Linked DNA regions of Homo sapiens. The protein of the gene in region 1 purifies or fractionates together with the protein of each later gene. This does not show direct contact. Each region holds a gene or a part of one and is shown in the gene's direction. Other genes may lie near its edges.

The links.
Region 2: the proteins of USP43 (region 1) and PDCD2 purify together in Homo sapiens (affinity purification with mass spectrometry; one large-scale study listed by BioGRID and IntAct). This does not show direct contact.
Region 3: the proteins of USP43 (region 1) and AIFM2 purify together in Homo sapiens (affinity purification with western blotting, with the first as the bait; one study listed by BioGRID). This does not show direct contact.
Region 4: the proteins of USP43 (region 1) and NHS purify together in Homo sapiens (affinity purification with mass spectrometry; one large-scale study listed by BioGRID and IntAct). This does not show direct contact.
Region 5: the proteins of USP43 (region 1) and FTSJ1 purify together in Homo sapiens (affinity purification with mass spectrometry; one large-scale study listed by BioGRID and IntAct). This does not show direct contact.
Region 6: the proteins of USP43 (region 1) and INTS1 purify together in Homo sapiens (affinity purification with mass spectrometry, with the first as the bait; one large-scale study listed by BioGRID). This does not show direct contact.
Region 7: the proteins of USP43 (region 1) and CEP57 purify together in Homo sapiens (affinity purification with mass spectrometry, with the first as the bait; one large-scale study listed by BioGRID). This does not show direct contact.

What each region holds. Positions count from the first base shown.
Region 1 is NC_000017.11:9,725,206-9,728,212, forward strand, and holds part of USP43 (ubiquitin carboxyl-terminal hydrolase 43), read left to right. Parts: intron 1-2,748; coding exon 2,749-3,007. UniProt on the Homo sapiens protein: May recognize and hydrolyze the peptide bond at the C-terminal Gly of ubiquitin. Involved in the processing of poly-ubiquitin precursors as well as that of ubiquitinated proteins.
Region 2 is NC_000006.12:170,577,790-170,581,882, reverse strand, and holds part of PDCD2 (programmed cell death protein 2), read left to right. Parts: exon of another isoform or gene 1-794; intron 795-1,777; coding exon 1,778-1,881; intron 1,882-2,912; coding exon 2,913-3,026; exon of another isoform or gene 3,027-3,103; intron 3,104-3,226; coding exon of another isoform or gene 3,227-3,247; exon of another isoform or gene 3,248-3,401; intron 3,402-4,093.
Region 3 is NC_000010.11:70,122,495-70,126,666, reverse strand, and holds part of AIFM2 (ferroptosis suppressor protein 1), read left to right. Parts: intron 1-2,566; exon of another isoform or gene 2,567-2,569; 5' UTR 2,570-2,582; coding exon 2,583-2,760; intron 2,761-3,146; coding exon 3,147-3,262; intron 3,263-4,172. UniProt on the Homo sapiens protein: A NAD(P)H-dependent oxidoreductase that acts as a key inhibitor of ferroptosis.
Region 4 is NC_000023.11:17,685,788-17,689,959, forward strand, and holds part of NHS (actin remodeling regulator NHS), read left to right. Parts: intron 1-1,954; coding exon 1,955-2,107; intron 2,108-4,172. UniProt on the Homo sapiens protein: May function in cell morphology by maintaining the integrity of the circumferential actin ring and controlling lamellipod formation. Involved in the regulation eye, tooth, brain and craniofacial development.
Region 5 is NC_000023.11:48,482,699-48,486,870, forward strand, and holds the end of FTSJ1 (tRNA (cytidine(32)/guanosine(34)-2'-O)-methyltransferase), read left to right. Parts: coding exon 1-96; coding exon of another isoform or gene 97-153; exon of another isoform or gene 154-256; intron 257-287; coding exon 288-320; 3' UTR 321-329; intron 330-542; exon of another isoform or gene 543-643; intron 644-3,037; 3' UTR 3,038-3,652; downstream 3,653-4,172. UniProt on the Homo sapiens protein: Methylates the 2'-O-ribose of nucleotides at positions 32 and 34 of the tRNA anticodon loop of substrate tRNAs. Requisite for faithful cytoplasmic translation.
Region 6 is NC_000007.14:1,476,514-1,480,418, reverse strand, and holds part of INTS1 (integrator complex subunit 1), read left to right. Parts: coding exon 1-102; intron 103-734; coding exon 735-989; intron 990-1,533; coding exon 1,534-1,693; intron 1,694-1,912; coding exon 1,913-2,053; intron 2,054-2,482; coding exon 2,483-2,666; intron 2,667-2,745; coding exon 2,746-2,869; intron 2,870-3,500; coding exon 3,501-3,625; intron 3,626-3,761; coding exon 3,762-3,849; intron 3,850-3,905. UniProt on the Homo sapiens protein: Component of the integrator complex, a multiprotein complex that terminates RNA polymerase II (Pol II) transcription in the promoter-proximal region of genes.
Region 7 is NC_000011.10:95,793,359-95,797,530, forward strand, and holds part of CEP57 (centrosomal protein of 57 kDa), read left to right. Parts: intron 1-862; exon of another isoform or gene 863-1,175; intron 1,176-2,157; exon of another isoform or gene 2,158-2,183; coding exon of another isoform or gene 2,184-2,201; intron 2,202-4,172. UniProt on the Homo sapiens protein: Centrosomal protein which may be required for microtubule attachment to centrosomes. May act by forming ring-like structures around microtubules. Mediates nuclear translocation and mitogenic activity of the internalized growth factor FGF2, but that of FGF1.

The sequences.
Region 1 (3,007 bases):
ATTATGAATGCTGTGGGGCTTTATAACCTTCAGGAAGAACCTAACGGCCTGTGTCTTTAATGCAGTGTAAGGCTCTAGGCTCAGACTGGCTGGAAACAGAATCTTCTCGGGGTGGGGTGGGGCGGGAGTTGAACCAGAGTTAGTGCCCAGGGGTCTCTGAACACCACTGTGTTCAGCATCTGTCTCCCAGCATCCCAGAAGTTTTGCCCATCTCCCCGGGGGAGGGGTACCAGGACTTGCACCCACCCTAGACGGGAAGTGACTTTGTAGAGAGGAAGTGTGATGTGAGCGTGGGGGCCTCTTATTCCCTTCTGTTCTTATGCTGCTTATTTCTCAATTTTATTAAAGCCATCACTGTCTCAGATCCTGTTATCCTAGCCCAATAAATGGAAGGAGAATAAAGATAACAGGGGTACTTTTTCACTGCCATCTCGAGAAAGAGGAGACACGAGTTCCGTGGGCATCTGTGGTTCCCATGAAATGTAGCTCAGGCGTTGATGTCAGCCCTGGCCTCAGAGACTTTCCTACCAGGAAGAAAGGAAGAACTGCTATTTCGGGCAGCTGCCAACTCCTCTCGCCACCTGCCGGGGCTCCAGGCAACATGCTCTCATTTTGAAAGGCTAAAAGTCACAGCTTTGTCCTACTAATACAAAGCGTCCCTTTCTGCCCTTCCCAGGGCTGTGGAAGAGAAAAAAAGAAATAAACTTCACACACATCTCAGACCCCAGAACATTTCTTCCCCACCCCCCGAGGGCTGGGAATTTAATAAGGTCAATCTAAACCAAAATTACAGAGTATTTTGGGTAAAATTGTGTCTATGACTGGCTAATCTAAAGAAATGCTTTGAGGAAAGAAAAAATCAAACATTCTTTATGAGAAACCTGGAAAGTCACATCCTTGAGATGCTTTCTAACTCCTTTTGGAGGTCATGGGCTTTCGGCTTCTTCCTGCTCCAGCCATTTCTCCAGGGGTGCTTGGTCGATGTGCACTTTGCCTCCCCCGCGTTCCTGCAGCATTCACTCCCCTGCACCTCATTCTTTTGCCTTTCCTGAGCTCTCACCCGTGCACCTGACAATCTCTGGCCCTTCTCTGTGTCACACATCGTGTTGGCTGTGCCGCTGACAGGGGGCTTTTTATGGCAGGAGTTCTGCTCCCTTTTGGAGCTTCTCTGTTTCATTGTTCATTCAGGCTGTTAGAACAGAATACCACGCCTGGGCAGCTTATCCACAACAGACATTTCTTCCCCACAGTCCTGCAGGCTGGAAGTCTGAGATCAGGGTGCCAGCATGATGGGGCCCTGGAGAGGTTCTTCCCGGCTGCAGACAGCTTCATGTGTCCTCACATGGCAGGAAGAGAGCTGGGTAGCTCTTCAACCTCTTCTTAGAAGGTCACTAATCCCATTCACGAGGGCTCTACCCTCAAGACCTAATTACCACCCAGCAGCATCACCCCCTTAAACCATCGCCTTGGGGACTAGAGCTTCAATGTATGAATCTCAGGGGACACAAACCTTCAGTCCATAGCACCCTCAAACACTATGATGAAGTGGCACAGTGAGAGTGGCCACCCGTGGGGCAGACTTCAGAGGTCACCCTGCAACCTTTCTCCAAATGTGTGTGACTGTCCTTGCGCCATGTAGGTTGTGTGTTTCAGTTGCGCCAGGTGGATTGTGTGTTTTAGCTGAAGATTTCTTTCTCAATGATTGCAGACATCATGTAAAACAAGGCATTTTAATGGTACAGTGACTGATGACTGAGAATTTCTTTCTTTTTTTTTTTGGAGATGGAGTCTTGCTCTGTCACCCAGGCTGGAGTGCAGTGGCATGATCTCAGCTCACTGCAACCTCCACCTCCACCTCCCGGGTTCAAGTGATTCTCCTGCCTCAGCCTCCTGAGTAGCTGGGATTATAGGCATGTGCCACCACGCCCAGCTAATTTTTGTATTTTAGTAGAGATGGGGTTTCACCATGTTGGTCAGGCTGGTCTCGAACTCCTGACCTTGTGACCCACCTGCCTCAGCCTCCCAAGACTGAGAATTTCTTAAGCAAAAATACACAACCTTGGTTGTACATATGTTCCTTTTAGAAATGTGGAGATATAGGAAAGAATTAAGAAAAAAAATCCATCACAAACAGCACTGCCATGGCCCTATCCACACCTTGTTTTTGGCATCTATTTCTCTATTCTTATTTGTATGTTTTCACATGCATGCATAATACATGCACGTGTATATATTTTTACAAGTTGTATAGGTTGGTGCAAAAGTAATTGTGGTTTTCACCATATTTTTTTAATTCCATTTTTTTTTTCTTTTTTAGCCCAGGGTAGGATATCTGAGATTCTTGCATTTGAAAGGTACAAGGACCTAATATGACCTAGAAAAGCAGGAACTTTTGCTGGGCATTCCGTTTCATAGGAATATTTAAAGATAGATGAAACTGATGTTCATTCTTAAGGCTAGATGCCCGTGAGACTGAGCTTTGCCAGGTGTCTGTGCTGCCCGGCATGTAGATACCTTCTTTGGCACTGGCTTACCCTGTGGCTTCAAACGTGTAAGTGGATATTGAGGAAGAGTGGGTGAAACCGTTGCTGTTCCCCAAAGGCAGGAACCCTATGTGGCTTCTTCACTGCTGTGTCTCCAGTGCCCAGCACAGTGCCTCCCACATCAGAGGTGCTCAGTGAACGTTAGATGACTGGCATTTCAGCTGTAGGGTGGCTTGTACACTGACAGTCTCTCTGTCTCTTTCAGGAGGGTTGGAGCCCAGGCGTTTGGTACGGGGCGTGAAAGGCAGAAGCATTAGCATGAAGGCACCCACCACTTCCCGAGCCAAGCAGGGACCATTCAAGACCATGCCTCTGCGGTGGTCCTTTGGATCCAAGGAGAAACCACCAGGTGCCTCCGTCGAGTTGGTGGAGTACTTGGAATCCAGACGAAGACCTCGGTCCACGAGCCAGTCCATTGTGTCGCTGTTGACGGGCACTGCGGGTGAGGATGAGAAGTCAGCATC
Region 2 (4,093 bases), on another chromosome or scaffold:
GATGTAGTCATATAACCACACTAAGAACTCTTCCAGGTGACTTCAAAACATAGGACAGTACATCTCTAGTAGAATATGCCCTGAGAATGAAAAGAATGTAACAGTGTTAGTATTTTGAATAAACATGTTATTACTAGACTGTTGCTTTTATTTTGAGATGGTTGTGTGTGTATTGGGGGGAAAGGAAACGAGTAATTATGTTGGTGTTACTGAGAACTGAGATGTTGGGCGTAGGAGGAAGATAATGTTGATTGTGTCTACGTACCATTTCTCTCTAAAAGGAACTCCAGGCTCTTTGGAGAGGTGGTTGATTCCAGAACTAGGTCAGGAAACGTTCATATAATGTGGGAACATGGTCATATCAAAGATTAAGGATAAGGATTACTAGGGCCATGTCAGAACTCAAGCAACATGAAAAGGCTCCTGCTTGCAAAAGATGGACAGTTTGAACATCCACAAGGACGCTAACTGCATCAGATATGTTTAATGGGTTCAAAATGATACTTTAAAAAAACTCAGTAATCATCTTTATAGGATACTTGGGAACAGACTCATTTTCAAATTGGTAAATAAAAGGAAAGAGTTTGCCTTCGAGGGGTACATAACTTAATTATGAATGAAGTGATATGTGTGGAATTTACTTCAGAGTAATGGAGGTGGAAGTGGCAGAGAAAGGAAACACTGGACTTGATAGTGTTGAAACTGATTAATGATATGTGGCGGTTCATTATAGTATTTCCACTTTTCTGTATGTCCAAAATTTTCTAAAATAAAAGGAGAATTGAATAGAAAAATGCTTCCTGGAGGTAGCTGTGTCTTACCTGAGACTTGGCAGGAGGCAGTAGGGCCTGAGGGAACAGCATTTACAGTGTCCTAACGGTTATACTGAAACTTTCCACGTATACTTGATGGAACATCAATCTGAAGGCATCCTACACTTCCTCCATCAGACCTGATGGTGCAAGTGAACACCATCAGTGCCTTTCCAGTTTCATCAAAGCAGTTATTTTAGCTTCTCTGACCCAAGGTATATCAGTTCTATTTTAACGTACATTACAAAGACTAATGGTTATACTTAGAGACACGGGTCTGTTGGGGACAGCAGTGGCTTAGGGTGGCTGTAATCCCAGGAAGGAATGTGGAGAAGGAAATGAACATTTTTTTTTTTGAGACGGAGTCTCACTCTGTCGCCCAGGCTGGAGTGCAATGTCACCATCTCGGTTCACTGCAGCCTCTGCCTCCCAGGTTCAAGTGACTCTCCTGCCTCAGCCTCCCGAGTAGCTGGGATTACAGGCACCTACCACCACGTCTGGCTAATTTTTATATTTTTAGTAGATACGGGATTTCACCATGTTGGCCAGGCTGGTCTTGAACTCCTGACCTCAGGTGATCTGCCCGCCTCGGCCTCCCAAAGTACTGGGATTACAGGCGTGAGCCACTGCTCCAGGCCAGAAATGAACACTTGATGACTGAGTGAGTGAGCCTACCAGCTGAGGATACTAATGATAAGGGCTCACATTTGTTGGGTGTCCTGTGATGTGCTGGGCAGTCCTAAGCCCTTGACCATTCTGTTATTTTGAAGCTTTAAGGAGATGCACTAAATGGAAGTCCATATAATAGAGTTGGATGGAGTACCTGGAAATTCAGATGGTCCAACTTGAATGAGTGAATAAATAGGGAAAGCTATCTGATTAAAAGTGGGTCCCCTCTCCATGTGTGAATTGTCAAGTTGTGGGGATTACTCCTGTTTTTCATAATAGTTACGTTGATTTTTCAGGTGAAGCACTTGAGGAAGAACTGGATTCCATGGCAAAACATGAATCCAGGGAAGATAAAATTTTTCAGAAGTTTAAAACTCAGATAGCCCTTGAACCAGAACAGGTAAAGTGGAGCTCATAGCTCCTCATCGTGTTCTCTTCAGGCCATGTTTTATGAGTATAATCTGTAAGAAATAACTTCATAGTAACATTAGTCTGTTCCTTAGGAGCCTATAAAAGCAGGCTTTTGTTATCTTGTTAGAGGAGTTCCTCACACAGATGGGCCATGTAGAAAGGTGTTTTGCAGTGCTGATCCATTTAATAGTTACTAAAAGACTAAAGGTTATACTGTTTATCATACAGGGTTCATTTTCTAAAGCAAGCATCAGGGATGGGAGATGAATGAGATGTTGCCTAAGGTACATGAGGTTTAGGCACCATTGGCCCCCCCGCCAGAAAGAAAAAAGGTTATTTTTGCCCATTTCCAACAGGTAACTTTGGCTTGTAAAATGTGACATGTTAACATTTTTCTCCTTAACCTCCCCTACCATAAACGTAAATCACGAAAGAAAACTAAACTCCCATAAACCAGTCACTGGTTCAAATAAATACACAGGAAGAATAGATCTAGGTCTTAAACACTAAGGCAGTTTTTAGCAATGCATATGCTTTTAGACAAAATACAGAAAACCACTCAGTTGCTGTAGGAAGCTTATTACAGTGAAATTTACTTATGTTTGTAGTAGTTTTCAAAACACTATGTTTCACTTGGTATTTGTCCCTCCTAAAATTTTTTAACTATGAAGGTAGGCACAGACTCTGGGCAGAATTCTGCAATTAGAGCAGAGGCTCATTCTTAGTCCCTTCACAATATATTCATAGGATTAAGTTGCCAACATTAGGTAGTAAAAGCATCATCTGGGAGATATATTTTGATGCCCTCTGAGTCAGATAAACTGAAATAATCACTTTGAGGTGATTGAGAAGGCATTAGTGGCACACTGGTACAGCCAGGTCTGATGGGGGAACTGTGACATGCCTTTTGGGTCAGTGCTACATCAAGAGTAGGAACATTCATGGAGTAGATAGCATGTTACCATTGGCAACTTATAGGTAAGGTATTGATTATTTGAACATGATCTTCATTGATTTTAGATTCTTAGATATGGCAGAGGTATTGCCCCCATCTGGATTTCTGGTGAAAATATTCCTCAAGAAAAGGATATTCCAGATTGCCCCTGTGGTGCCAAGAGAATATTGGAATTCCAGGTATGACCTTAAATAAGGACCATTTAGTGTGTAATCACCATGATTGTTTTTAAACATTAAAAACTTCACCAAGGTAATTTGTGCACATGGGTCAACATGGCAGTATGGAAGGGTACCCTATAATGAAAATCATCAGTTTCCTGCCTCACCTTGGGGCTAGTTCCCTGGAAGGAACTGTCTTGTTTTTTTCTGTTTCCTAGTTTTCAGACACGGTCTATTGACTGACTTCTGTGACAATGAGGATATCTACACTGCTCTCCACCTCCAGTGTGGTTATGTCATTATTATTAGTGCCTCTGTTAACTTTTGTTATTTTAAATAATGTATACCTTCCTTTCTTGTTCTAGTAATTAAAGTCTTTGACTATATACTTTATGAGAGGAGTCTTTACTGTTTAATCTTGGTTTGTGGATTTGTTAGAAAAAATGGATATAAGCATTAAAGATAAATGTCCTTCCCTGCCCAAAAGGATTTGTTAGCATCAAAATCCATTTGGGTAGGGTGGAAATGCTCTTGAGCTATGGATTCACTAACCTTACCAAAGTCATAGCTAATATTGGTTTGTTTCTTTGGGTAAAAAAGGAATTATGAGGACCATACACAAAACTCTGCTTGGTTCTTAGTGCCAAAGCTCTCAATGTCCAAATTGAGGTGACAGGATTTGTATAAAGTGATTCCATATCAGGTGGCTATTCTGCCTATTCACTCTTTGAGTTAGACTACTTCTAAGATTCCTCTCTGGTCTCTATAACTACATTGATAGATGTCCTTTCTGTATTCATTACTAGTAATTAGTGTTTCTTGAGTCAAGAGTAACAACATCTGCAATGATACAAAGTAAAAGTTGCCCAAATAGAAGCCTCAGCCCTTTTGAGTGGCATATTAGTAATGAAAATAATTCATTAACAGCCACTTGTGAACTTCTTTCTCAAATGGAAAAGACCAAACAGAAGGTGAGAGGGGCTTTGAAGTCATAAGGAAGTTTTAGATTGTTAAACATGTTAATTGTATAATGTCTATAATCCTGCTTTGTAGTATGAGGATTGAAAGACCAAGATCCCTATAAT
Region 3 (4,172 bases), on another chromosome or scaffold:
GGGACCGTCTTGGGGAACCACCACCATGTCTTGGAAACCAGTGTGTACGAGGACAGCTCAGGATATTATAGCTGGTTGGGCCTTATAGTCCCCTCCCATTATAGGGGGTAAATTGAGGCCTAGAGAGGGAAGGGGTTGTGCCCCAGACCCGCAAAGATGATCAGGGCAGTGCAGTGGCCTTCCAGCGGCCTGAGGGTCCCAGATGAGCTGGAACACACTTCCTTATGAGGCTGTTCAGTGGCTTGATGTCTATCCTTCAAGGTTGACCTCAGAGTCTACTTCCTCCTTCGCTGACACCCGCTCCAGTCCCCCTTCCTGAAGCCCACAGCAGCTGTTGAGCCTCTGGGGCTGCTTTCTGTATAGTGTGAGTTTTGTTTCTTTTTCTCAGCATCTCCCCCCAGCAGCCTGGCTTATTTCTGCCTCTCTTTAGGGCTCAGCACAGGCCAGGAGGAGGGTTGATTGCTTGTCACCTCTCAGGGTCTCAGCTGCAGTCAAGAGTGCCCCTCAATGGGCTGTGCGGCTCCTCCCACACCAGCAGCCCTCTGCCTGCCTGAGGCCCACACTGCAAGCATCCTAATTTGGGGTTCTGCTGGGCTGGAGGCAAGGCCTCTGGTGCAGCCCCAGGCCAGCCCCTGGGCCCTCCTCTGTCTGGGGCAGACTCTGGGATGCACAGGTAACCCTGTTTACCAGCCTTCCAGGCTGGCTTGGGGAGCCCAGGCAACTTTGCTGCTGTAGGGCCCAAGGCTGTTGAGTTGGATAAAAGGCAACTTTATACAAATATAAAAATATAAATTTATTTAATGTGTGTATACACAGGAGCCTTCAGAAGGAAGACCCGACCCCCAAAAGAGGTACAGAAGCTTATATACCATCTTGAGGTCATACAAAGAAATGGGGACTGGGTGCAGTGGTTCATGCCTGTAATCCCAGCACTTTGGGAGGTTGAGGTGGGAGGATCACTTGAGCCCAGGAGTTTGAGACCAGCCTGGGCAACAAAAGGAGACCCCCATCTCTACCAATATTTATTATTTTTATTGTTTTATTTTTTTGAGATGGGGTCTCACTCTGTGGCCCAGGCTGGTGTGCAGTGGCATAGTTACGGCTCACTGCAGCCTTGACCTCCCTGGCTCAAGTGATCCTCCCACCTCGGCCTCCCAATTAGCGGGGCCTATAGGTGCCCATCACCACGCCTGGCTTTTTTTTTTTTTTTTTTTTTTTTTTTTTTTTTTGTAGAGACAGAGTCTCTCTATGTTACCCAGGCTGGTCTGGAACTCCTGGGCTCAAAAGATCCTCCTTCCTCAGCCTCCCAAAGTGCTGGGATTACAGGCGTGAGCTGCTACACCCAGCCCCATCTCTACAAGTAATTAAAAAATTAGCCAGGCATTGTAGCATATGGTTGTGGCCCCTCCTTCCTACTCCATGATCACAGTCTTAGTTCACACCACATTTGTCTTAGTCTGTTTTCTGCTGCTACAGCAGAATACTACAGACTAGGTAATTATAATGAACAGAAATGTATTGGCTCATGGTTCTGGAGGCTGGGAAGTCCAAGATCAAGGGCCCAGTGTCTGGTGAGGGCCTTCATGCTGAGTCATCCCATGGTGGAAGGCAAAAGAGAGAGCGAGAGAGAGGAAGAGCTTGAACTTGCAGCCTCAAAGCCCTTTTATAATTGGTATTAATCCATTCATGAGGGTGGAGACCGTATGACCCAAACACCTCCGATTAGGCCCCACCTCTTAACACTGTTCCTTTTTGGGAGACATATTCAAACCCTAGAAGCAGAATTTTGCAGGATTCTTGTCGTAACCTGCTAATTGACCTCCTTAGACCTGGACCTTAAGTTGGTGACCTGTGAGCTGGGCTGAATCTGGTTGCGGTGTTTGTTTAGTGCAGTGCTTAAAGAATGTTTTTTGTTGTTCCTTTAGATGTGGCCTATGCTTGCTGGTTCCCCACAGGTGTGCCCACTGTTTCTTGTTATTGCACCTTTTCCCAGCTTCTCACATCATTGACATTGCCCACCTGGTTCTTTGACTTTGTAAGGTCTGCCCTTATAAGGGCAGGGACCATATCTGCCTGTCTGACCACAGGATACACAACACAGAGCATGTCAAAAAGCAGGAGTTCAATTCATATATGTTGTTGAGTGAACATTATTCCCCTCTTCAAAAGTCTTTTTTTTCCTCCTGCCCCACTGCAATCTCTCCCAAAAGTCTTTGATGGAATATATCAAGTAAAAAACAAATGTGCAGAACACTTTGTTTAATGGGTGCAAAAAATAATCGTGATTATAGTTGCATAAACTATCTCTGGAAGGAGTCATCCAAACTTGTTACGTAACAGTGGATGCCTCTGGAGAAGGGAACTTGGTGTTTGGGGAATGGGCTGGAAGTGGGATACCCCCTTGTTCCTTCTGAATTTAATTCAAATTTTATAAAATTGGAGTTTCATTAATCAAAGATTTACCTCATCTAAAAAGGTCAATTCATGATCGAGGCCTCTCTCACTGTGGGTCCTCCCAGCCCTCCCAGCCTCCCTGACTCTGATATGCTCTCCTCTTTCTTCCCAGCAGTGCCTGATTTGAGATGGGGTCCCAGGTCTCGGTGGAATCGGGAGCTCTGCACGTGGTGATTGTGGGTGGGGGCTTTGGCGGGATCGCAGCAGCCAGCCAGCTGCAGGCCCTGAACGTCCCCTTCATGCTGGTGGACATGAAGGACTCCTTCCACCACAATGTGGCTGCTCTCCGAGCCTCCGTGGAGACAGGTAATGTGCTCCCGTCTGGGGCTGTCTCTGTGAGGGGGGTCTTGTCTCTGCTCTGGGGCTTGATTTTAGGGCTGGGGGTGGTTTTCTCCATTTAGGGCCAAGTGCCTGCATTCCACTGTCAGACAAGTTCTGGAGAAGCTCAAGGTCTTTGGTCTTAAGTAGCCACCACAATGAGACCCTAGAAGTAAAAGCTTGAGCTTTTCTGACGGTCTGAGGCCCAGATTGGCATTTTAGGAAGTAGGGGTACCCCAGGCATACCTAATGGCCCGACGCTTTGGTCAAGGGCACCCCTGTTGGTTTGCAGCTCGTGAAAGGTTCTGAGTCACTCTGGCTTCCCGTGGGCAGCCTGGCTCTGCCCTATGACCTCTTCTGTGTCCCTTCCCCAGGGTTCGCCAAAAAGACATTCATTTCTTACTCGGTGACTTTCAAGGACAACTTCCGGCAGGGGCTAGTAGTGGGGATAGACCTGAAGAACCAGATGGTGCTGCTGCAGGGTGGCGAGGTGAGTGAGGGCCAGCCCGGCTGCCAGCTGGCTCAAGGGCCCTCTGCAGGGCCTGGGCGGGATCCTCCAGGGTCAAGAGAGAGCTAGGCTGGGGGCGGTGGCTCACACCTGTAATCTCAGCACTGTGGGAGGCCAAGGCGGGCGGATCACCTGAGGTCAGGAGTTTGAGACCAGCCTGCCCAACATGGCAAAACCCTGTCTCTACTGAAAATACAAAAATTAGCTGGGTGTGGTGGTGGGCGCATGTAATCTCAGCTACTCAGGAGGCTGGAGAATTGCTTGAATTCGGAGGTGGAAGTTCCAGTAAGCTGAGATTGCACCACTGCACTCCAGTCTGGGTGACAGACAGAGACTCCATCTCAAAAAATAAAAATAAAAAAAAGAGAATGCTGTCTGTGAGCCCCAAGCCCTGCCTGGTGCTGGGCAGATAGCGGATTCCTCATAAACAAAGGCTTGACCACAGCAACCACAAGAATATGGTGGCAGATATTTCTTGTGTAATTCCTGCATGCCAGGCCCTGTTTGTAGCCTTTACGTAAGTCTCATGAATGTTTACCGTGCCTCTATGGCGAAGGTGGTATAACTTCATTTTACAGAGAAGCTAAAGGGTTAAATGGCTTGCTTAAGATCCCACAGCTGGTAAGAGACTGAACTAGGATTTGAACCCATGCAATTTTAGCCCAGAGCCCATGCTCTAAAAGCCAGCGTCCCAGACAACTCCCAGGCCTGGCCAGCCCTCGGCTCTGTCTAGAACAAAAAGGCACACGCATGGTCCCACATCCCCCGGATCGGGACGTCACTGGGGCAGAGGTTTCCCTTCACTCATTTGTGTGTTCCCCCACCTCACATGTGCATCATGGAGCCTGGAACACACCTGCCATGACTTCAGCTCCATCGATAAGCTGCCACC
Region 4 (4,172 bases), on another chromosome or scaffold:
CCTGAGACCATCCCTAGGGAACTGTATAATACCAAAATAGGAAAAGTCTTCCAGTGTCATTGCTCCCAAACTATTTCATCCAGGCAGAATCACAGTTAAACCATTTTGCACAAAGCCAGAGAACAAATGCTTTATGAGGGTCGGGATTCCTGTGTGTTTTGTTCTGTGCTGTGTTCCAACACCTAGCACCATGCCTGAGACTAAGAGCTACTTGGGAATGTTCCATGGGTGGATGGATGTTTCCATTTTCAGCAGCGTCTTCCCTTCCCTCATGTTGCCCAACTCCTTTCACTCCTACAAGATCCCAAGGCATCATCAGAAGACATTTTGTGTTTCTCAAACCTGCCTGATGATAAAAATAACTTTTCATGTAATATAGATTACCAGGCCTTTCTTTTGGAAATTCTGATTCAAAGTCTAGGTTGATGCCCAGGAATCTGTGTTTTTGACAAGCACTTCTGATGAGCCTTTTCTTCAGATGAACATTAAGATAAATAGGAGGGGCTCAGGTTTTCCCCACACAAGAATTAAAGAGCCATGGCCACTTGACCTGGTTTCTGAGGGGCTGTCAAAAGTTACCACCCTAAGCCTCTGGTCAGCAGTGCTGAGGGAATGAGGGACTAGAAGAGTCTTCTGGTCTACCTCTTAGTCACCTTGGCCCAGCCCTGTATCCTGGCTCCCACCTTCCTGAAAAGACGAGCCTAAGGGAAGGGGTGCTCAGAAGCCCCTCTACTTCTAGGACTGCCCACCTGGCTTCTTGCCCATTCTTTCCACAGACATGCTTTCTGTTCTGTCCCTTCTCCCAGCTGTCATGAGCACATGAATTCATGGTCCTCTCTGTTGGGTTTGGTAACGACCTCTGCCCCATTGGGTAGGAGTTGACTTTTGCATGCAGGGAGAGCCTGATTTCTCAGTCAATCCCCCATTACTGAACCAGAGTGGAAAGAGATGAGACTGGGAGGTGGGGGGAGCAGGGTGGGCCCAGGACAGGAGTCTGGATCTGGATAGTGTGTCTGGAGGGTAAAGCAGACTGGGCCAGTTCATGCCATTCCCGAGGCTGACAGGCTACCCAGGTGCTTGTGAGGTCCTCTTTGCAGCCATTTCTTAGTAAAAATCCTCCTGGTTCCTAACATCTGCTTCCAGCAGAATTTCTGTTTAACTCATGGAGAGTTCCATCCTAGGATCCCTGTGTACATGAAGAAGATGAGAGTGAGTTAAATGCTGTGTTTGGGGGAAGGAAGCCTTCCTTCCTTGATCTCTTGGATGAGTTGCAAAAACTCATCTTGCATCTGCAGTTTCCCTCCCTTAATACTCATTACCTCTATGATGGTTTCTTTAATGCGTATGCTCACCCCTGGGTGAAACCAAGGAAGAGCAATGCTTTGAAAGATGACAGGCAATGGAGCCGGTAGGTGTAGGGCATGATAAGGATACCTTGGGGACGGGACCACAAGGGACAGAGGCAGGGCAAGGTATAGGCCGAAGTTCAGGTGGACAGCAGGGGCGGCGTGCAGAACTACAGCTCTGAGGCCCTGCGGCCAGAAGGCTGGAGCTGAGGCAGCCTTTCCATTCATCTCTGAGGCTTTCCTCCACATTTTTCAGAAACAGGACCCCCATCTCCACCCCCAAGCAGGCTAGCCAGGGGCTTGTCAGTGTTGATGAGCGACTGTGCCAAGGGTGAGGAATGAAGGTACGGAGAGGAAATTAGCTAGTCATAGGTAGACGGTTGGTGTCTTGGAGCCTCCCGTGCCTCGGCTCAGGGGCAAAAGTTGTCCCTATCAGTATCATAAATGCCAAACCTTTCTCCGGCCTTGAGTTAGTTCTTAATGTGAATGCAGTAGTCTGGACTTCCACTCCACCCAGACTTTACTCCTGTCCTCTTCCCCACCCCAGGGTTGGCCAAAAGCACAACTTAAAGCCACTGATGGACAACGCCCTGTTTCTTGTCTTGCAGCCGTCTCCAACCTGGACATAGAGAGTAAGCTGAGTGTGTACTACCGCGCCCCGTGGCACCAGCAGCGCAACATCTTCCTCCCAGCCACAAGGCCACCCTGCGTGGAGGAGCTGCACCGCCACGCCCGGCAGAGCCTGCAAGCCCTGCGCAGAGGTGACAGATCCTGGGCTTGGGGGCTTTTGCGGGAGACAACTCGGAGGTTGTCCCATCCAGGTGTCCTCTGTCCCATCAGCCCCAACACACCCCCTTATTATAGCAAGTACTTTGAAATGCTCCCGTTTCTACCCTGAAATGAAATCCATGGGTAATATGCCCAACCCATACACATAAGAAAAAATAATATTATGGTCTAAATATGATAATAAAGAGAAATTAAAAGGAAATTATTGATAATAATATCTATTTCAATATGCAAATGCTCAGGCATGACCTCACTAGAAGACATCATGAAGCAGTCAGATGTCTGCACTTGTCAAAAGCAAGTCTGGATTAAGTACAGACCTTCAGAAACTATTCCGAGGGGCAGGAGGGCATGACCATAAAAACTGGTACATTCAGTATATATTAGATATGGGCAAAAAATAAATACTTTGGATTAGAATGAAAAGGGAATTTGGCTTGACTCATAAATAGGCACTAGGTTTTTCCCCTATAAGAGATTCTGATGGAACATTTAAAATTGTGTGAGACCTGGGACACATTTTCATTGACCATCCTCTGCATTATGGGATGGCTGTCATCTTTGGCTCCCATCCAATCATTGTAACAATTAGAATGATCCCCTAGAGGGCTCTTCTGCTTCTCTTGAGAACCAGTGATCGGTCTAATGCCCCCATTCTTTAGTGGGACACGCGGAGGCCTAGAAAGGTGAGGAAACTTGCTCAGGGTCACACATAGCAGGTTAGGTGTGGTACCAGGACCCAACCTAAGCCTCTGAAATGCCTGCCAGAGCTCTTTTCCTCCTTGCCATACACTGTGTCTCATGGAAATAGGTACTGATGTTTACATGTCTCTCACAGTCCTGAGAAAGCTAGAGATAGGCTCATAGCAGTCAAAATAGGAATACAGTTTTTTCTTACACTGGTTGCTTTTCAGTGCCTTAAAACCATTCTAATTAGGACAAGGGGAATAAAAAGTAGCTTCATTGTTTTAGAGCCCCCTAAATTGGGTATCAGAAGGGGACATGTCAGCTTTTTTTGGCCTTTAGATTCTTGCTATGGAGATAGATGGTGTCTACACATTCAATGTCTTTCTTCCAAATTCCCTACACTCTTTTAAGAAATGGCATTTTGCAAAAGTATTAAAATGCAAGTAAAATATTTTAATGTCATTATCAAAGTGGAGAAACAAAATGGTGATATTGTTTTCATCTTATTTATTCCACATTTGTATAACTCCTGCCTTTTCCCCATCCTTATCTTCAATAGTTTGTTGCCTTCAATTATCATCTTTTTTCCCTCCTCATCTTTTTTCCCTTCCTCATCTTTTTTTCCTTTTAATGAAAGAGCTAACCTCCTAATATCCCTAAAGCAATTGTTTCTAAAAATTTTCCTTGGTTATTAGGGGAAGACATTGTGACACTTACAATGAAGAGTGATGATCAGTATCCTGTAGAAGCATCTTTGGCATACTTACCATTCACTTCAATTTTATAGTTGGCTAAGAAGTTCTTTTTTAACTTAAGCCACCTTCTGAAAATCTTTCTTTCCACACTTGCCATTCCTTTGCAGCCTGGATTAGGCACCCTTCCCATAATATCCTGTGCATCCTCCCATCCTGCCACTTAGAATCTTATAATCAACCACTATGGGCCTGTTTTACCAACCAACCACTAATAAGCCATTAATCTATGAGCAACTCAAGGGCAAGGATGATATCTTATTAATTTATTTTATTCAAAGCACTTAGCATGAAGCTGACATATAGTAGGTCCTCAATGAACATTTGTGGAACTGAATCAAGTTTTGCAAAAAACTGGTTGAACATTGAGGGCACAGGATGACTATAAAGGAATCTGATCGTTCTCACCAAATCCTTTCTCAGGTCCCATCATTAGAAATCTTGGGTAACATTAGCCCTTTAGGTATAATTATTTTTATCCCTTTATTTTATTAATAAGTCATCCCTGATTAGGATTTTATGGATTCCACCAGATAACACCAAGCTGCTCGTAAACTATCACATTTCACTGCTTTGTCAGGTTTAGACTTAAAGCAGA
Region 5 (4,172 bases), on another chromosome or scaffold:
AAGGAGATCCGCCCCCAGGACTGCCCCATCAGCAGAGTGGACACGTTTCCCCAGCCCCTGGCCGCCCCTCAGTGCCACACCCTGCTGGCCCCTGAGGTCTGGAAATGTGACTCTCAGCCTGCCTTGACCCCTTCCCCGTGTGCCTTTTTCTGACCCAAATCTCATGGTTTCTGGGGCCAAAATTCCCTTTCCTGCCTCCCAATAGCTATAAAAAATTGGTAAAGCCAAGCATAATGAATGGAAAAGTTTCGCCAAATATGTGAGTCACTTTTCTTTTTCTTGGGTAGATGGAAGACAATGAAATGAGTTGTTCACCTTAACCCATTACGGTAAGTTTGCCTTGTTATCTAAGAGTTTGAGTAAGGGCAACCTTTATGAAAAACCTCAGTAAAATTTCACCTTTGAAATTTTTATGTCAACTGATAAGATTTTAATCAACAAACCCTTTTCTAAACATCTGTTGTTGTATGCCAGGAACTGCTTTAAGCATTTTACATTTGAGGCATTCAGTAAACATTTATTGAGCACATACTGTATGTCAGGTGTTGTTCTAGGTTTGGAGATAGAGCAGGGAGCAAAACAGAAATATCTTGGCTCTCACAGTACTTCCAGTTTGGAAAAGAGGCAACAATCAAAACAGTCTGTAAGTGCAAGAGTTTACATACACATATATACTATATAGCTTGCATTTCTCAATTTACATATCTTGCAATATATATAATATATAAGAGTAATATGGGATATAAAAAATAGAAAAAAGTAAAGCAGGGTGAAGAGAATCAGGAATTCTAGGCATGGCAGTTTTCATCTTTTGGTGTTTTTGTTTTGAGACAAGGTCTCACTCTGTCGCCCAGGCTGGAGTTCAGTGGTGTGATTTCCCGGGCTCAAAAAATCCTCCCACCTCAGCCTCTCAAGTAGCTGGGACTACAGGCATGTACCACCATGCCTAGCAAATTTTTGTATTTTTAGGGGAGATGGAGTTTTGCCATGTTGCCCAGGCTGGTCTCGATCTACTGGGCTCGAGCGATCTGCCATCCTCGGCCTCCCAAAGTACCAGGATTACAGGCATGAGCCACTGCGCCCAGCCAGTTTGCACTTTTTAAAAGGGTTGTCATAGAAGGCCTCAGACATTCCTCAGAGGTAATGTTTGAGCAAAGACCTGAAGGCACTGCCGGAGGGAAGCCATGTGTTTATCTGAGGGAAGAGCATTCTGGGTAAAGGAAATAGGCATGTCCCAAAGGTGGAACTGCACGTGGTATGGGAGGAAAGTTTATCCATAGCCAAATGTTCTAAAACCACGATGTTAGAGGATGGCCCTTTCTGACAATGGCATAGCAGGTTATTCAGACTAAGTCAGCCATCACAAAAAGCCACCTTTTTTTTTTTCTTGAGACAGAGTCTTACTCTGTTACCCAGGCTGGAGTGCAGTGGCATGATCTCAGCTCACGGCAACCTCCATCTACCAAGTTCAAGCGATTCTCCTGCCTCAGCCTCCCAAATAGCTGGGATTACAGTGCCCGCCACTATGCATGGCTAATTTTTGTATTTTTAGTAGAGATGGGGTTTTGCCATGTTGACCAGACTGGTCTCAAACTCGTGACCTCAGGTGATCCACCTGCCTCGGCCTCCCAAAGTGTTGGGATTACAGGTGTGAGCCACCACACCTGGCCTTTTTTGTTTTGTTTTTTGTTTTGTTTTGAGAACAGAGTCTCGCTCTGTCGCCCAGGCTGGGTGGAGTGCAGTGGCACTATCTCAGCTCACTCCAACCTCCGCCTCCCGGGTTCAAGAGATTCTCCTGCCTCAGCCTCCTGAGTAGCTGGGATTACAGACGTGTGCTCCCACCTCACCCGGCTAATTTTTGTATTTTTAGTAGAGACGGGGTTTCACCATGTTGGCCAGGCTGGTCTCAAACTCCTGACCTCACAAAATCTGCCTGCCTCAGGCCTCCCAAAGTGCTGGGATTACAGGCCTGAGCCACCACACCTGGCCACAAGAAGCCACCTTAAGAAAAAATTGAAACAGCAAATCATTGTGTGAAAGAGATTTACAGTTTTTAATATTTAAAGGGTCCTGTAAATCAATAAGGAAAAACATGAGAGTGGCCAGTAAGCACATGAAAAGCTGCTCATCAGGAAAATACAAGTGAAAACTCAAAATATCAACAACACTAAGTATTTGAAAGGATATGCAGCAATTGAAAGCCTCGTACATGCTACTGGGAAGGTAAAATGGTGCAGCCACTGTGGAAACTTAGGCATTACCTACTAAAGCTGCATGTGTGCCAGTTCCACTCCTAAGAAATGAGTCCTAGAGGCCGGGTGCCGTGGCTCAACGCCTGTAATCCCAGCACTTTGGGAGGCCGAGGTGGGTGGATCACCTGAGGTCAGGAGTTCAAGACCAGCCTGACCAACATGGCAAAACCCCATCTCTACTAAAAATACAAAAATTAACCGGGCATGGTGGCGGGCACCTGTAATCCCAGCTACTCAGGAGGCTGAGGCAGGAGAATCACTTGAACCTGGGAGGTGGAGGTTGCAGTGAGCTGAGATCGTGCCACTGCACTCCAGCCTGGGTGACAGAGTCAGACTCCATCTCAAAAAAAAGGAAATGAGTCCTAGAGTGTTGCTAGCAGCACTATCTATAGTATATGCCCATTAAATCGTGGTACATTCACCGTGGAGAACTGTACAACAATGACAGTGAACATCCTGCAATTACACCAAATAACACCTTGTAGTTATTCATTAAACTGAACATATATAGGTTTTATGCATTTTCTATATGTCATGGTTCACCATAAAAGGAGGAAATGTCACAAAAATGTTAGCAGCAGAGTTAGCTAGGTGTGGTGGCACATTCCTGCCTGTAATCCCAGCTACTTGGGAGGCTGAGGTGGGAGGATCACTTGAGCTTGGGAGGTTAAGGTTGTCGTGAGCTATGATGGAGCTCCACTGCACTCCAGCCTGGGTGACAGAGCAAGACCCTGTCTCTAAAAAAACAAAACAAAACAAAAAAACTTTCTTTGACTTTTGGTTAGCTGGCAAACTGATACAACTCAGAAACTGCTCAATGTCAGGAAAACCGGAACTTGTTGATGAACTTGTTTTCAAAATATCATCTCATCAACGAGGCCTGGACAAACAAGCCCTGAGGAGGGATCTGCAACAACCCTGAAGACAACAAGGAAAGAAACCATGAAAGTCTGTCTGTACTGCAGTGGGAATTCTTGAGTGAGGTCTTACCTCTTCTTTAAACCTCTTCAGGAGTGTCCTGATTATGTCCAGAATTTTCCCTAAAGGCAGGGATTCTTAACCTGGATAGAAGCCAGGGGTAACCATGAACTTGATGGAAGAAAATGTTACATCTTTATTTTCAGCAATGAAACTGAAATTTAGCCTTACTCCCAAGTTATAAATGCTGGCAACAAATCACAGTAGTAAAAGCAGTACCTGGGATTTTCCCACCAATACAAACCAGTTACAGCAACTGTAATGTAACATAAAAAGGGCATCTTGAAGTATTGTTCATATTTGTCACCTCTTGGAATGATAGCAGATCCTGTAAGTTGATGTATTAATTAAAAAGCCCATATATTACTGCATCTCAATTTTGTTTCAATTTAATATATAGTAATAATTGTAATTCAATGTAATTGGCTTCCATTGTAATTGTGTGTGTGTGTATGTGTATGTATATACTTTTAAAAATATTCTGTGAAGGGGTTCACAGATTTAACCAGATGCCAAAGGGTTCTGCAGAACAAATTTATTTATTTATTTTGAGACAGAATTTCGCTCTGTCACCCAGGCTGGAGTGCAGTGGTGTGATCTTGGCTCACTGCAACCTCTGCCTCCTGGGTTCAAGCGATTCTCCTGCCTCAGCCTCCCGAGTAACTGGGATTACAGGCACCCGCCACCACACCCGGCTAATTTTCGTATTTTTAGTAGAGACGGGGTTTCACCATTTTGTCCAGGCTGGTCTCGAACTCCTGACCTCAGGTGATCCACCCACCTCGGCCTCCCAAAGTGCTGGGATTACATGCGTGAACCACCGCACCCAGACTTCAGAACAAATTTTTTAGGTTAAAAACCTGTCTTAAAGAAACGTCAGGGCCAGGCGTGGTGGCTCACGCCTGTAATCCCAGCACTTTGGGAGGCTGAGGCAAGCGGATC
Region 6 (3,905 bases), on another chromosome or scaffold:
AAGAGCAGCCCAGAGCAGCCCATAGGCCAGGGCCGGATTCGGGTGGGGACCCAGCTCCGGGTGCTGGGCCCTGAGGACGACCTGGCTGGCATGTTCCTCCAGGTAGCGTTGCTGCTGCATGTGGGTCTCCACCTGCAGCCCCTCTTCCTGCGTGCAGCCTTCGCTGCCGCCTCGCACGCACAGCGGCCTTTACTTGCGTGACCGCCTGACCCAGGCACGCTGCACACGCACAGCGGCCTTTACACGCGTGACCGCCTGACCCTGGCACGCTGCTTTCACGTAACACCCCCATGCTCTCAGATGGAGGCTAGGCCAACATTGGGGAAGGGGGTCGCCCTGCATCCTCCCTGCCATCCTTGCACACCCCTCTGCGCGGGGCACCCGGTTTGATGTGTACAGAAGCTGAGGTTGCAGGTCTCGCCTGAGGTCTGGCTGTTGGAGCCGGGGATCCTGCAGGCCTCACCACCTCCTGATGGAGAGCCTGGTGGTCCCTGGGCAGGCTCTGGACACCTTTGTTCTCTGGGGCAGCTCCTGGGTGTTGGGGTCCCTCACTGCTTCACATCACAGGTCTCAAGGGCCCTGGGCCCCTCAGGCCACAAGGTGGGGGCTACGAATGAACAGGGACACGATGGGACGCGGTTCTGGCACGGAGCTGCACCGGGCGCTTAGCCTCTCCGCTGCGCTCCTCCTCCTTCTCCTCCGCTTCCTCCTGACACTGGCCTTCCCCGTTCCAGATTTTCCCGCTCAGCCCGGACCCTCGGTGGCAGAGCTCCAGTCCCCGCCCCGTGGCCCTCGCCCTGCAGCAGGCCCTGGGCCAGGAGCTGGCCCGCGTCGTCCAGGGCAGCCCCGAGGTGCCGGGCATCACGGTGCGTGTCCTGCAGGCCCTCGCCACCCTGCTCAGCTCCCCACACGGCGGTGCCCTGGTGATGTCCATGCACCGTAGCCACTTCCTGGCCTGCCCGCTGCTGCGCCAGCTCTGCCAGTACCAGGTACTTGGGCGTGGGCCTCTTGCGGGGGAGGAGGGCAGTGAGGGCTCTGCCTCCCGCAGGACGGCCCGGGTGTCCTGTGACTGCTCCTCTGTGGGTCTTGGGTCTCAGTTTCCAAGTGAGAAAGGACAGTGCCCCAGGGAGTGGCGGCAGGTCCCCTTTTTCCAGTGAACATTCCCCCGGGACGGGAGGTGGGGGCAGTGCGGCGTCCGCCTGTTTGCACCACCCAGGCTCGGCGCTCCTGCCTTGCTTTCCCCATCTGCTGGTACCTAGGACTGTGTTTTACTTGGTGTCTGTGTTTACTTTTTCCTTTGAACCGCGTGGGAGCCCTCACCAGCTGGGGGGTTTTGAAAGGGTCTCTGTGAGGTCGTCTGGGCCCGTGCAGGGGAGGCACCGTTTCAGACAGGAGGCGGGATGAGGTTGGCCCAGGCTCCAAGTGCCGGTCGCGGCAGGTCTCAGCAGCCTCACGGGCCCTGCTCTGGGCCTCGGGTGCCGGGTCCCCGTGTGTCCTCTGCCAGGGTAGCCACGTGCCACTTTGTCCCCGCAGCGCTGTGTGCCACAGGACACCGGCTTCTCCTCGCTCTTCCTGAAGGTGCTCCTGCAGATGCTGCAGTGGCTGGACAGCCCTGGCGTGGAGGGCGGGCCCCTGCGGGCACAGCTCAGGATGCTTGCCAGCCAGGCCTCAGCCGGGCGCAGGCTCAGTGATGGTGAGGACCGCGCCGGGCTGGCAGACGGCTGGGGGGCACTGGACAGGGGCTCACTCAGAGTGGCCAAGCTGCCTGGCACCCCGAGGCCTGGGCAGTGGCTTGGGGGGTGGGTACCCGCGTGGGCCCAGGGGAGCCCTTCTACCGTGGGGCCTCCCTGGATGGGATACACCGATGGGGTGAGGGCTGGAGCCACAGGGCACTCACACAGACCTCCCACAGTGCGAGGGGGGCTCCTGCGCCTGGCCGAGGCCCTGGCCTTCCGTCAGGACCTGGAGGTGGTCAGCTCCACCGTCCGTGCCGTCATCGCCACCCTGAGGTCTGGGGAGCAGTGCAGCGTGGAGCCGGACCTGATCAGCAAAGGTACCTTCCTGGCACCATCCTCTTGGGCCACGGCGGCCCTGGGAAGACCCAAACCTGAGGCTCCTTCTAGCTGCCCAGTGGGGGACGGACAGTGTCTGCTCAGCACTGTCCCCGGAAAGTGCCCACAGAGGTCCCCTCCCAGATGGCTCAGGGCGGGGCCTCTTGAGAATGAGTTGGAGCTTCCTCCTTGGGGGGCCCCTGATCACTGCTGCACCCAGCAAAGTGAGCCCCGGCCCCGGCCGCACTCTCCAGCCCCGGCCGCACTCTCCTCTCCGGCCCCGGCTGCACTCTCCTCTCTGGCTCCGGCTGGACTCTGCTCTTGTGTCCCACACATGCTCACCCCACACCCCACCCTGGCTAGCCCACACCCACTCAGCGGCCCCCACCCGACCTGGGAGTGACCCACATGTCTCTTTGTCCCTTGCGCAGTCCTCCAGGGGCTGATCGAGGTGAGGTCCCCCCACCTGGAGGAGCTGCTGACTGCATTCTTCTCTGCCACTGCGGATGCTGCCTCCCCGTTTCCAGCCTGTAAGCCCGTTGTGGTGGTGAGCTCCCTGCTGCTGCAGGAGGAGGAGCCCCTGGCTGGGGGGAAGCCGGGTGCGGACGGTGGCAGGTGAGCTGGGGTGCTGCACACGGCCAGGGTGGGCAGGCGGGTGGCACCAGCCCTTCCCTGAGCCACCTTCTCCCTGCAGCCTGGAGGCCGTGCGGCTGGGGCCCTCGTCAGGCCTCCTAGTGGACTGGCTGGAAATGCTGGACCCCGAGGTGGTCAGCAGCTGCCCCGACCTGCAGCTCAGGCTGCTCTTCTCCCGGAGGAAGGTGGGTGGCACCCAGCTTCAGCACGGGGACCCACCCCAGGGTAAAGGCTCTTCCTGACCTGAAGTGCAGCAGCCTTGGCCTGGGCGAGCCTTGCAGGGGCCCCAGCACCCCCCCTGCTCTCAGGCCATGTGTCCCTGTAGCAACCCAGAGGAAGGGTAGGTCCCCCAATGGCCCTAGCAGAACCCAGGCCAGGGTCACAGTCACCTGTGGACCAGCACTGTGACCAGCCAGATGTGGGGATGGGGTGGGTGGATGGGGTGGGGTCGGCCCTGCCAAACCCTGTAGATCATGTAGGGGCCTCCATCTTCCCAAAGGGAATGGGGCTGTGGCCAGGAGAAGGGAGGGCAGGTGCTGGGCTCCCCACATCCTCCAGGGAGGGACGGCCTCACCAGAGAGGCTGCATGGAGCCCCGGGCACCTCCGCTGTGTGGCATGGCTCCCGTGGGAAGGGGCGGGGAGATGCAGCGCAGCCACCAGGAGCGGCCCTCCAGCACCATGACGGGGCCGGTGTTACCGGCAGCACCCCAAGCCTCGGCTCTCTGAGTGGCTCATTGGGGAAGCTGTCAGCTGACTTCAGCAGAGCCTGCCATTGGCCCAGGTGAGGCCATCCGGGCTTCTTCCTCCCTCCCCAGGGCAAAGGTCAGGCCCAGGTGCCCTCGTTCCGTCCCTACCTCCTGACCCTCTTCACGCATCAGTCCAGCTGGCCCACACTGCACCAGTGCATCCGAGTCCTGCTGGGCAAGAGCCGGGAACAGAGGTGGGCGCCTCCCTGTCCCCAACCTGGGCTGCGCGCATACTGGCCTTCACCAGAAATCTCCCAGCGCCGGCTCTGACTGGTATCTCCCATGCTGAGACGAGACACCTCGTGCTCTGGAACCTTTGCCTCCCCACAGGTTCGACCCCTCTGCCTCTCTGGACTTCCTCTGGGCCTGCATCCATGTTCCTCGCATCTGGCAGGGGCGGGACCAGCGCACCCCGCAGGCAGGTCTTGGGAGGGTGGCCCATCCGGGAGAGGGGGTGGCCCATCCGGGAGAGGG
Region 7 (4,172 bases), on another chromosome or scaffold:
TTTCACAATAACCTTGGTGATTAATGACCTAATCTCTTGATTTGTCCCTCTGACTTTTGGTCCTTCGACCAAGCTGCACAGTAGCTCCATATTAATTTCCCTTAAAAATGTTTTATGGCTATCATACATTTTATAATATTAAATATAAGATTTACTTTTTGAGAATAATAAAATGAATACCTTCATGTTCCTCTGTGTCTTCTTTCTCCTTCCCACACCCACCCACTACCACGTATTTTAAGATTATAATGTATGGTATTTATATAGGACTACCTGGCAAGGCATAATCCTTAAAGACCCTTTTCATGCATTAACTCATTTAATCCTCACAATAACCTTCTGAGATTGGCATTAATATTTCCTTTTTCAAATGAGCAAAATGAGGCACAGAGAGGTTGAGTCAAAGTTCTCTAGCTAGTAAATGACAGTATCTTAATGGGCTTTGGATTTAATGGGTTTTGCTGTTCATTTGTTTGCCAGATATTAGAAACAATCTTGTATTCATTGTTATATGCTGTACATGGCAAATGTTTCTCTAGAGTGCAGTTCTCGAAGTATGGTCTCACAACCCTTGGAGATCTCCAAGACCCTCTCAGAGTCTACAAGATCCTTCTGTAATGACCACGTTTGTGGTAGACTAGATCTTTAATAAGTCAAACAAAATAACATATCCAACAGAGCGAATGCAGAACTAGATAAGAGAATCCAGCATTCTTTTTTTAAAGCAAACATTAAAGAGATCTGCAGAAATGTAAAATAGTGCCATTCTTTTCACTAGATCTTTTAGAGTGTAAAGGGGTCCTGAGAGAAAAAGTTTGCAAGGGGCAACTCTAGGGCAGTGATTTTTCTTTTTTTTTTCCAGACCAGAGGCTGGGCTCTGGATTACAGCTCAGTAGTGGGTCATGGAATATGTACTGTGACTCAACCCGTATCATTTTCAAGAAAGAAGAGAGAGAAAATCGTTCAGCAAATATAACTGAATGAATTATCTGGTTCACAGAGTATGTGCGTCTTCAGCTTTACTCGGTCATACTAAATTGTTTTACCAAGTGATTATACCAACAACCCTCTTTATTTTATGTCCTCTTAAATGGATGGTATCGTCCCACTTGTAAATTTTTGCTGTGTGTGTGAAATGGTATCCTATTTTCTGATTTGTGCACCTCTTATCATTGGTGAGTATGCACCCTGTTTTTTTCAAACCTTTACTAGTGTGTGTGTGTGTGTTCTTCTGTGAAATACCTGTTCATGTCCTTTGCCTGTTTTTGTCTGTTAAGACTGTTCCAGAGACATCTTGGCTGGTCTTTGATATCTTTCGATTAATAGTTGTTGTTACTTTTAATGTAAAATTTGTTAGTCTTTTTATAATTAGTGATTTCTGTTTAAGAAATTCTTCCTTTCTCCAAGGCCTTGGTTGTATTCTTCTATATTTTTTTCCTACTTATTTTAAAGTTGAAGCCTTTTATGTCCTTAATTTACTTGAAATTAATTTGTATGCTGTGAGATAGGGATCCAGTGTAACGGTTTTACTTAAAATACACAATTGTCCCCACACTACTTGTTGAAAATTCATCCTATCCCCAATGGTTTGCAATATGTTCATTTCCATATGTGTATGGGTGTGTTACCTGGCTCTTTGTCCCTTTGTTGTATTTGTCTCTCCTACTTAGATACCCACTTGGAGGTGGGGGGGTCATTTACCTCCTTGTTACTCAAGAGAAATATTAGCTATTGTTGGTCCTTTGCTTTTCTTCAGTAGAAATTCTGGAACCTGCTGTTGGAATTTTGGTTTAGATTTTATTGAATTTCTAGCTTAATTTGGGTGTAACTGATACGTTTAGGATATTGACCCTTCTGTCTGAATGTTATGTTACTCCATTTATTTAGAACTTTAACATTTTTCAGTACTTGTATAATTTCATGTCTTGTATATTGTTCAGTTTATTTCTAGTTTTTAATTGTGTGATATATATTTTCATAAGTTGCATTTTCTAATATATAAAATTACTGACTCTTACATATCTATTTTACTCAGCAATCTTCCAGACTTAATTCTCATAATTGAGGATTTTTTGTTTTGTTCTATTTAGTCATGATACGAAATTGGGATTCTTCCTTTTCAATCTTAATAGCTGTTATTCTTTTTTTTTTTCTTAGTGTGCAGACTAGGGAAATGAAGTACAATGTTGACCAGAATTGATGTAGGTATCTTTGTCTTACTCCTGATTTTAAAAGGAATATTTCAAGTTTTCCACCATTAAGTATGTTTGCCATCTTTTCTTGTAAAACTTCATATTATCATAAGGAAGTAAGTTTTTTAAAAAATAATGGCTGGATGTTGAATTTTATTGAATGCTTTTCTACATTTGTTGACGATCGTATTGATATTTAGTTTGGAACTGTTGCATTGATTGCACTGCTCAGAGCTGTACATCATGTTCCTCCACCATTGGACCTTGACTTCTCCAATTTTATTTCCTCAACATGTGTACACAAACTCTTTTTTTCAGCTAAACTGATGTATTCATTAACCTGGAAATAATTGCCTTTTATATCCATTTCTAGCTTGCCTATCAGAATACATGTCAATCTACAAGACCCAGTATCGATTTCAGCACTAATAAAGACCTTCCTTTACCATACTGTTTTGAAGCAGTGTTCTGTTGAATGCATCTGAATTTAATTTGCACTTAGTCTCTATTACATCCAATTTACCAGTTCCCACCTACTGTTTTGTATTTGAGTTTTATCTAGGTAATATCTTGCAGCTGTGTTGCATGTGCCACTTATAAAGAAAGCAAGTAATATGCATTTTTAAATTATGCTTCATACTTCACACAGTGTCATAAAAAGATGTTCAATAAATATTTGAATTATGTGTTCCTAAATGAGATATTTGCCCTAAGAACTAAAGGCTGCAGGAAAAGCTAGTGATCAGGTTAAACATTTTGCCTTTAATCCTGAAAGTTTCTCCTACAATCATATTTTGGTTGGAATAATTTTTACTGAATGCTTAGGGTCATGGAGAGATTAGTGGATTGGGAGTTAGAATTGGGCTCCTTTCTACGCAGCCTTCCTATGATATTTGTGCTATTTGTTAAATATAAAGAAGCCCAAAAGCTTTTGGTGATCTCTTAAAGGGTTGTAGTGATTTTGTTGAAAAGGATAATCTTTTATAAGTAATGTGCAGTTTCCTGTTTTGCGGAGGAAATGTATAGTTAATATTCAACAGATTTATTGAACATAATAAAACTCCTTTATTAGAACTTAATTTCTCCAGCAAAAATTCTACACCAACTGGGTGTACTACAATTATTTTAATTCTGACACTGCCCAGATGTTGCTCAGACCCCCATACATTAAGGGGCTCCGTTTCACAAGACTGCCTGCCCCCAAGTCAGTCAGAGTTCGCAGAGCATCTGCATTTCTGCTCAGCTGACTACAAATTATGGGATTCCTGCAGCTTTCCAAGAACGGCTCACAGTACTCAGGAAAGACTGTTCTTAAGCAATTTCAGTTTTATAAAGGACACAACTCAGAAACAGCCAAATGGAGGAGACATAGGGCAAGGTGTGAAAGGGCTTCTGTATCCTCTGGTGCAGCACCTTCCCAGCATATCAGTATGTTCAACAATCTAGAAGCTCCCCAAACCTCATTATTCAAGAGTTTTCATTGAGCTTTCATTACATAAATACATAATTGAGTAAATTATTGTCCGCTGGTCACTGGGCTCAATCTGTCCCTTACCTCCCCTAAGGTCAGGGCCTAGGGCTGAAATTTGTGACTCTTCCCCCCCACCCCACCCCCCTCCCAACACACACACACACAGACGGAGTCTCACTCTCTTGCCTAGGCTGTAGTGCAGTGGCCCAATCTTGGCTCACCACAACCTCCACCTCCTGGGTTCAAGTGATTCTCCTGCCTTGGCTTCCTGAGTAGTTGGGATTACAGGGCACACCCCCACACTTGACTAATTTCTTTGTATTTTAGTTAGAGACAGAGTTTCACCATGTTGGCCAGGCTGGTCTCGAACTCCTGACCTCAAGTGATCCGCCCAGCTCGGCCTCCCAAAGTGCTGGGATTACAGGCATGAGCCACCATGCCTGGCTGAAATCTGTAGCTCTTTATAATCTAGTGGTTGGTTTTTCTGGCAACCAGCTTCCAGAAGATGC